2 separate regions of the Homo sapiens genome follow, and region 2 is linked to region 1. Evidence: fine-mapped expression QTL. A gene starts in region 1. The other region holds a variant in brackets. All regions are shown on one strand. Distances are from middle to middle.

Region 1 (4,393 bases):
TTTTTGAGAAAAGCCAGAAATATGAATTTTTACATAAAATTTCCCAATTTTAAAATGTACCCAGTGAATTTAATTTTTTTCAAAATATTTTGTAAATGTAACGAAACATATCAATAGGTCCGAGACGGCTCAGGAACCATTCAGTTTTTTTGCCTTCGCTCTAGAGTATGTATAATATGGCATTTTAATCTTATACATTGAGAAGAAATTAAGTTGTAAATAAGAAAGGAGGCTGAGGAGGGAGGATCACTCATAAGCAGTAATAGAGCTGGATGCAGAATCTGGTTCTTTTAGTTACCAAACTGTTATGTCCTTCCTCTGCGATTACACAAGCTTCTTTACCTAACAAATGAAATATATAGACAGGTTAGTCAGACATGCAATAATCACAGCATGCTGTAATAAATTTAGGACAGACAGCATAAGCTTCCCATTTAATTAATCCAGATGCTGTCTCTCTTGAAACATTTATAAGTGGGAGCCCCAGATGAGTCATCAAATCAATTGTCTTTGCCTCACAAAGTCTGTTTTAAAAGTATAGGACACAATTATAGCATGGTTTGGAGCAAAATTATAACTTAGCTAAACAAATATCTTTATATCGAGTAATAACATGTAGATATTTTAAATTTCTGGAGAAAAGTTTAATTATTGCAGAGCTCATAGAAAGCCAGGCTCCAATTATTAACACTTTAAGGACTGGGCGCTGTGGCTCACGCCTGTAATCCCAGCACTTTGGGAGGCTGAGGCGGGCCGATCACCTGAGGCCAGGAGTTCAAGACCAGTCTGGCCAACATGGTGAAACTGCATCTCTATTAAAAATATAAAAATTAGTCAGGCGTGGTGGTGGTGCCTTTAGTACCAGCTACTTGGGAGGCTGAGGCAGGAGAATCGCTGGAACCCGATGATGGAGGCTGCAGTGAGCCAAGATTGTGCCACTGTACTCCGGCCTGGGCAACACAGTGAGACTGTCTCAAAACAAAAACAAAAACAAAAAACAAAACAACAAAACAAACAAAAACACAACTTTAGTACGACTATACCCATCCATTCACTCAACATATATGATGAACCTACAATTTCCTGTTCACTAGGGATATATTTTCCAGCTGAGGGCATATACATTTAAACTAATTATTTTCAGTAAAACATGGAGTGAGCGCTACAGGAGTCCAGAAGGAAGGGGCTAGCATAGCCACTTACCTTCTTTGCCTTTGCTAACAGATCTCTAAAGTGAAGTACGCTGATTTTGCAAAAACCAAAGTCTCAGAGCTAGGGGACTTGGTGGGATACAGACTCACGTATTCTGACTGCGAGTTCACAGCTGAGATACCGTGAACAAAAAGGAACCACTCTTTTGTATTCCTCTCTTTCCCAAGGAGTCAGTGTACTCCTTTGCAAAGCAATTTTCACCTACAGAGTCCTAACAAATATTAGCTATGTCCTCTGATTTAAGCTACTCAACTCAATGCCATGTTTTGTTTTCCTTTGGGGAGTCACCAACTAGCTTGGACTTGAAAGACGTCTTCTGTGCAAGGGGAGGCAAATCTTGCTGGTTGGAAGCAGCAGAATCAATCTGGCGCCAGTATCATCTGAATCTAGCATTCTTTGCACAAACTCTAATCCAAATACAAACCCACCAGCTTTTACTGCTGAAGTTTAATATTCACAGCAAAACCACAACGTGGCCTCACGTTACCACCAGGCCCGGCTTGAGCTTTTTACTCGAGCTGGGCTTGGGCGATCTAAAACGAGGGACAGGGCCTGCATTTCCTGGGCGGAATGTTATTTATAGCCAGGGCCAGGAGAAGCCAAAGCCGACAGCTGCTGCGCCGCAGCGCGGGGCCGCCGCCATGCAAGCAGTTGTCACACCGCTCACCTTCACAGTCGGCCCCTGGCCGCCCCCCGGCCTCCTGGCCCTGCGTCAGCACCGGGTGAGAGACCAAAAGCCCGGCGCAAAAGGCCACCACAGCAACTGGGCTCGCGCACCACATGCTGGGCCAGCAGCTTCAATCGCCTCCGCCACCCGCGCCCACCGCCCACCAAGCTGCCAAAGCGAGCTGAGCAGAATTCGAGGTTGGAAAGAATCTGCCAGTAGTTGCCAGGACAAATGACGCAACTGAACACAGAGTTTCCATTGGCTCTCAAGGAAGGGATAGGAAGGGGGCGGAGTGTAGGAGCCTTTTCCCGTCCCTCCCCGGTTGCGCGTGCGCACTGTGCAGTTTCCGCGGAGCGCAGAGACGCGCTGAAGCTACTCGCGGACTGCGCGTGAAGAAAGGCGGAACCTTCACGCTGATTGGCGGCGACGCGGGAGGCTGTAGCGGCCGACCGGACGCAGGGGGCTGGCGGGAACGTGAAGCTCCGCGGTGCCTGATGGGGCCGTTGGGCGGCCGGTAGCTGTTGCTGTTGGGGGACCCCCTCATTCCTGCCGCTGCCGTCCCTGCTGCCTCATGGCGGCCATCGGAGTTCACCTGGGCTGCACCTCAGCCTGTGTGGCCGTCTATAAGGTGAGGGGCTGCGGAGCTGGGCTAGGGCTTCATGACGGCCACCCGGTTTTCTGGCGCTGGGTCATCCACAGGCTTGAGAGCGGCGTGTCGCCGGCCTAGGGATGTCGTGGAGTGGCGTTGCCGCGAGGACACTCCGGAGCGAAGGGCCGGGCAGGCCCGGCCTCGCGCCTGGCGATTCCTCCGGAAAGTCGTCTACTCCGCGGCGGAGGCTCGCGGCGATGTAGACGCGCGGGGTCCCAGGGCGTCATGGCGGCGGGATGCCCGGAGGGGTCCCAGGGACGACGTAGCTGCAGGGTGCCCGGGGGGGTCCCGGAGACAGCGGGGCCGCTGGGTGTCCCGGGGGGTCCCGGGGACGGCGGGGCTGCGAGCATTTTGGGGGAGGTCACGGGGACGTCCTGGCCTCTGGATGCCGGAAGGGGTCTCGCTGACGTCAGGGCCTCAGGATTCCCGCGGGTGGGAGGTCCTGGGAAAGTTGTGGCCGCGAGGTACTTGGAGGCGGTGGTCTCTGGGACAGCAGGGCCGCAGAACGCGCTGAGCTGGGCCCGAACGTCTAGGTCCCGGAGGGGCGGGGAGGCTGCAGTCGAGCTGGGGCTGATGGTCCCGCAAAGCTGCCTGGCTGTGAAGCCAGTTGATGGTGCGTGGTCTACAGAGGTGGCCTTTCTGGAAGTGAGAGCCTGACAGGACTTGTGGCCTTTCTCTCATCAGTGGGGAGGCAGAAGAAACGATAATCATGAACTCCGTTGCCACTAGTCCCGCGTTTAAATGTCAAATGACTTGTTAGGAAAAGCCAAAGGGAATAATACTACTTCATTTGTAGAAATGGGAAGAAAGGGGCCCAGCGCGGTGGCTTACGCCTGTAATCCCAGCACTTTGGGAAGCCGAGGCAGGCGGATCACGTGAGGTTAGGAGTTCTAGACCAGCCTGGCTAACATGGTGAAACCCCGCCTCTACTAAAAATACTAAAAATTAGCCGGGAACGCCTGTAATCCCAGCTGCTCAGGAGGCTGAGGCATGAGAATGGCTTGAACCCGGGAGGCGGAAGTTGCAGTGAGCCGAGATCTGGCACTGCAGTCTGCACTCCAGCCTGGGCCACGGAGCAAGACTCCGTGTCCAAAAAAAAAAAAAAAAGAAATGGTAATGGTAAGAAGGAAGAGAGGTAGGAAAGGTAACGTAATAATAGCCTTCGTTTTGTGTGTAGAAAGGTTGTTATTACTTTTGATTCAATTGTTGACTTTGCAGAGCAGACTGAAAACATGAGGCAGTTCTTCATGGAATTATAGGCTTTCTATGAAAACGAGGAAATTAAATGGTAATTAAATTTGCAAGTTTAAAATATTGAGATAGCAGTTTTTCTTTCCACACAGATGGCAAAGTAACACTGGTGCACAAATGCACACGTCTGAATACGTCTAATGAGACTATGTATTTCGTGTTTTTTTCTCTAGGATGGCCGGGCTGGTGTGGTTGCAAATGATGCCGGTGACCGAGTTACTCCAGCTGTTGTTGCTTACTCAGAAAATGAAGAGGTACTAGTCCCCCCATTTTTGTACTTCTGAAATAATTTAAAATTACATACATTGTAATATATATATATATATATTATTTTTTTTTTCAGATTGTTGGATTGGCAGCAAAACAAAGTAGAATAAGAAATATTTCAAATACAGTAATGAAAGTAAAGCAGATCCTGGGCAGAAGGTATGGAATCAAATGATACTTTTAAATATGGTAATAGGAACATGTTCATAAATTCTAAGCATAATGTGAAAAGAAATTAGAAACAGCATAGTTTGTTTCTTCATTGCTTTTTATGACTGAGTCATTACAGAGAGTACCCCCAGTAGGCAGTGTCTTTTGATTCTTAGTGTTGGATCTTCTCTGATATG
Region 2 (4,393 bases), 32 kb after region 1:
AAGAGTATGCACCTTGTTTCCTGCTAACTAGGGTGTGGACGAATCAGGAGCCAGTAGATTCACAGTGCTGTTTCCATCAGGGACTCCTTTGCCAGCTCGAAGACAACACACATTGCAAGCCCCTGGAAGCATATCTTCAGTGTGCCTTGAACTCTATGAGTCTGATGGGAAGAACTCTGCCAAAGAGGAAACCAAGTTTGCACAGGTGAATACATAAAGTTAGACACATTAAACTGTTCAACTTTGCTTTCTGGATTAGATTCAGTTTAATATCTTAATACAAAATGTGTATATATATAAAGGACACCTAATACATTTTTATGAAGGATTTTATGAAGGCTCATTTCTGAAAATGAACACCTGTGTACTCATTTTTGAAAGAGGGAAAAAATAGGCAGTTCTAATTTGAAAGAGTTCTGGGTATTTAGACTGCTTCTCTGTTGTGCTCTTGGCCTACCTTGGTAGTTAGGTAAGTGGAATGGGAGAATTATATTTTTTGGTTCATGCTAAATGCACATTATTGTGTACGTTTTACAGATGATTAAGAAGTTGGCCTGTGATAGCAAATACCCTTTATTTTCTTGGTCAAGCTAGGGTTTCTCCTCACGTTGGTTTCATTTCTGAGCCCATGACATGCTCTTCCCATTGTGCCATGCTGCCTCTGAGACAAGATAGGTTTGCTTTTTTAAAATACCGCGTGCATATCTTATACTATGTGACCCTCTGTATGCTTTACAGAGAGTGAAGTAGAGCCACGTTATTTACTTAGAAACATGTCTGAGAAATGCAGTTGCATTCACACACACACACACACACACACACGGACTGCAGAACAGTATTTGTATTACAATGCCATTTGTATCTAAATAAAAAGTCTGGGAGCATGAGTGTGTGTGAGGAGGTAGTATTTGAGTAGGGGTGCATTTTCAGATATCCAGGCATTTATACAGAAAATATCTATAGGTACTTAAACCATATTCCAGAAACTTCACAGTAGGTAAATAAGTTTGAAGGTACCAAGAGGGGTTTTTTGACTTTTGACACCTTATACTGAATTTTTTACAAACAGCACAGGACATGAGCATGAATTACTTTTATAGTAAAAATTAAATATCGGTAACAAAAAATAATGTACTGTTTTTTTTGTTTTTTCTTTTTTTGAGACGGAGTCTCGCTCTCTTGCCCAGGCCAGAGTGCAGTGGCACGATCTCGGCTCACTGCAAGCTCCGCCTCCCAGGTTCATGCCATTTTCCTGCCTCAGCCTCCTGAGTAGCTGGGACTACAGGCGCCCACCACCACGTTCGTCTAATTTTTTGTATTTTTAGTAGAGACAGGGTTTCACCGTGTTAGCCAGGATGGTCTCGATGTCATGACCTCATGATCCGCCTGCCTTGGCCTCCCAAAGCAGTATTGTTTTTTAAAAAATATATGCACATTCAGAGAAGTCCAGAAGCAGACTAAAAATGCCTAGCTTTTTTGAGAAGACAGGGTGTTTATTAGTGATGAGATATTGTGTGTGTACGTGTACGTGTGTGTGTGTGTGTGTGTGTGTGTGTGTGTAAAGAGATACATATCTTTAGCTCACATATTTATTTTAATTTTTTTTTTTTAAGACGGCATCTTGCTCTGTCACCTAGGCCAGAGTGCAGTGGCATGATTTCAGCTCACTGCAACCTCCACCTCCCGGGTTCAACTGATTCTCCTGCCTCAGCCTCCGGAGTAGCTGGGACTACAGGCATGCACCACCACACCTGGCTAATATTTGTATTTTTAGTAGAGACAGTTTCACTGTGTTGACCAGGCTGGTCTCAAACTCCTGACCTCAGGTGATCTGCCTGCCTCAGCCTCCCAAACTGCTGGGATTACAGGCATGAGCCACCACGCCTGGCCACATATTTATTTTCTAATTCCAACAAAAGAGTAATGAAAACACACA[C/T]ATGCATAACATGCCTGGGCTGCACCTCAGACTTACCAACTTGGAATCTATTGGTAAAGTTTTAAAAGCGCTTCCACATGAATTGGTTTGTGTGTGTCTAAGAACCTTCCCATGCACCAGGTTTTTGAACTCAGATGGCAGTCCTAGTATTTCCTTAGCTCTTCTCTCACAGTTCTGTTACCTTTTTCTTCACATCCTCTCTGAGACTCCATAGCTGCTGCCACTATATCCTAACTTAAAGATGCCAGGAGGAGCGTTAGCCACGTAATACTGAATTTGGAAGAGAATCTTTCAGAGTTCCCATCTGTTCTAACCTTATTTTACAAATGAGTAAAACAAGGTACTTAGTAACTTACCTAAGTTATTAAACTAGAGTTTGGCAAAGCCTAAAGTCACTGCAGAACTCCAAATCTGGTTTCTTGATATACCATTCTTTAGGAAACTGAGGAATTTTATAGTAAATTCATTACCATCTCTTACTTACAAATATAATCTTAGTTGTACAAAAGAGTTTGCCATGTTTTTAAGTAGGTGATTTTCCAAATGTATTTAAAATGCTTGATTTTTTTTTTTTAAGTATATATAGAAAGCTAGCCAAATTATAATTTGCGTGTTACTGGGAATGGCTTACTTACCAAAAAAGAAAAGTAGCCTTTATTTTCCAAGATTAATAGTACATCTTAGAAACAATGATTTTAATCTAGGACATGACATTTAGAAGGGACAAATGCATTAGTTATCTTATATGCCCTCCTTCTGGAGGAAACATTTCAAGTTAACAAAGCTTCACTCCTATTCTCTGAATTCTGATTCAGTGGTAGGAGAATTGAAAACTGCCCTATTTTAAAAAGGTTTGTTTCAGTGATAAATAAGCTTTGGTCCTTTGCAATAATTGATACATCAGTTCATTTATGTAAAGATGCTGAATTCTCTTCATATTGTTCTTGTATAAACAGGTTGTACTCCAGGATTTAGATAAAAAAGAAAATGGATTACGTGATATATTAGCTGTTCTTACTATGAAAAGGTAAAAAATTAAACTTCTGTTGTTAAGAAAATTCAATTTGATACTTGACCATTTTTTGAGTTTATTGATTTTTTTATTTATTGTCATTCTAGAAGAAACATTAAAAACCTACAGAGGTTTTTATCAGTGAATTACATTTTTTGCCCCCAGAATTACTATATTTTACAAAGAAAAGTATATCTCAAGTCATTTGCATCTTGAATATTTTAGGAACTCTTTATTTTGGCTATCATCAACCTAAGAAACTGATCTGTGCTCATTTGAGATGTAATTTATCAATTTCTAGTATAATTTTCTAAGGTTTATGTAACTGTTACTGTTTGCCCTATGAAAGGGTAAGTTTCTTTATTGCTGCAGAAAATCTGTAAGAAAAAAATGTACTAATTAAATTCAGCTATTGCCATTTTCCTAACCACAAGCTATCCATATCACTATGTATTACAAGTAAATCCTTTCCAAATGAAACTTAAAAGACAACTTACTCCATAAACGATACTTAGCAAGAATATAGAATTCATCAGGGTGAGTTTGCCTTGGCCTAGGCTTGAAAATAGCATGGTGCATCTGGAGCTTATATAAAGTCTTAAACCTAAGATGTTTGTCATCATGGGTTTTCAAGAAATACAACCATGATCTTAGTGGTCTGGAAGGAAGTTCCTAATAACAACTAGCTAAATATAACATATGACACTTACTAAATTTAGAGACACTGAGATTGTGTTTATTCTTTACATTAATACCCTTCTTTTGAAAATTAAAATTAACCCTTGTTTACTGAAAGCCCTCAAGTAACTTGTTACAGACTTTATGTTTTTATAAAATGAGCTTGTGCAATGTTCTTTATTTTTTTGTCTGTTTAGGGATGGATCTTTACATGTGACATGCACAGATCAAGAAACTGGAAAATGTGAAGCAATCTCTATTGAGATAGCATCTTAGTGTTTTAGAGAAATCAAGAATTTTTAAAAACAAGAATATCAACATTTGGTTTTGTGTATAAGTGGTGTTTGTATTAAAATACTTTTTCAATGAACTGTATAAACTATGTTTTATTAAACTACAATATATCAGTAAGTGTTGCAACCCTTTGTTTTTGACGTACAGTAACCTCTTATTACTGGGAAATATAAGGAAGTTTTTTTTTTTTTTTATCATGAAGCTGTTTAGAATTAAACTGAGTTGGTTAAAGAATTTTCTATAACATTTAATTTGTAAAAGTCTTCTATTGATTCTTGTTAGATAACCAAGAGAACAATTAAAAGTCATTGACATTAATTGAAAAAAATTTCAGGACCACATAGAAAGTAAGATGCCTTTTTTTGTTGGTTTTTGTTTTTAGAGACAGGATTTTGCACTGCCACCGAGGCTCAAGTGCAGTGGTGGGATCATATCTCACAGCAGCCTCGAACTGCTGGGCTCAAGCAGTCTTC

Alleles and levels. Positions count from the first base shown, and alleles are read on the strand shown. Sizes are in standard deviations (SD) of each study's normalised expression.
In carriers of allele C in region 2, the expression in thyroid of the gene that starts at base 2,085 in region 1 tends to be higher than with T alone (small effect, 0.19 SD a copy in GTEx).

What was found. PIP is the estimated chance that this variant, and not a neighbour inherited with it, causes the effect.
Region 2: its variant is the best candidate, but not a certain one, in a credible set for the expression of CDNF in thyroid (GTEx, PIP 0.71).

Annotation. Positions count from the first base shown.
Region 1 is chr10:14,835,953-14,840,345 of GRCh38, forward strand. It overlaps CDNF (cerebral dopamine neurotrophic factor), which reads right to left and starts at 2,085. Exons shown (of 4, transcript NM_001029954.3): 1 at 1,880-2,085. The coding sequence starts at 1,994. HSPA14 (heat shock protein family A (Hsp70) member 14) reads left to right here and starts at 2,354. Exons shown (of 14, transcript NM_016299.4): 1 at 2,354-2,507; 2 at 3,953-4,033; 3 at 4,123-4,205. The coding sequence starts at 2,451. It overlaps MSANTD7 (Myb/SANT DNA binding domain containing 7), which reads left to right and starts at 2,354. Exons shown (of 5, transcript NM_001378785.1): 1 at 2,354-2,507; 2 at 3,953-4,033; 3 at 4,123-4,205. RefSeq lists a silencer at 2,138-2,247 and an enhancer at 2,398-2,637.
Region 2 is chr10:14,867,705-14,872,097 of GRCh38, forward strand. It overlaps HSPA14 (heat shock protein family A (Hsp70) member 14), which reads left to right. Exons shown (of 14, transcript NM_016299.4): 12 at 32-205; 13 at 2,893-2,963; 14 at 3,824-4,037. The coding sequence ends at 3,902. It also overlaps a transcript of SUV39H2-DT not described here. Among named protein-coding and RNA genes, the nearest start is that of SUV39H2-DT, 8.8 kb to the right of the region's middle. The variant C/T (reference allele first, on the strand shown) is at 1,937.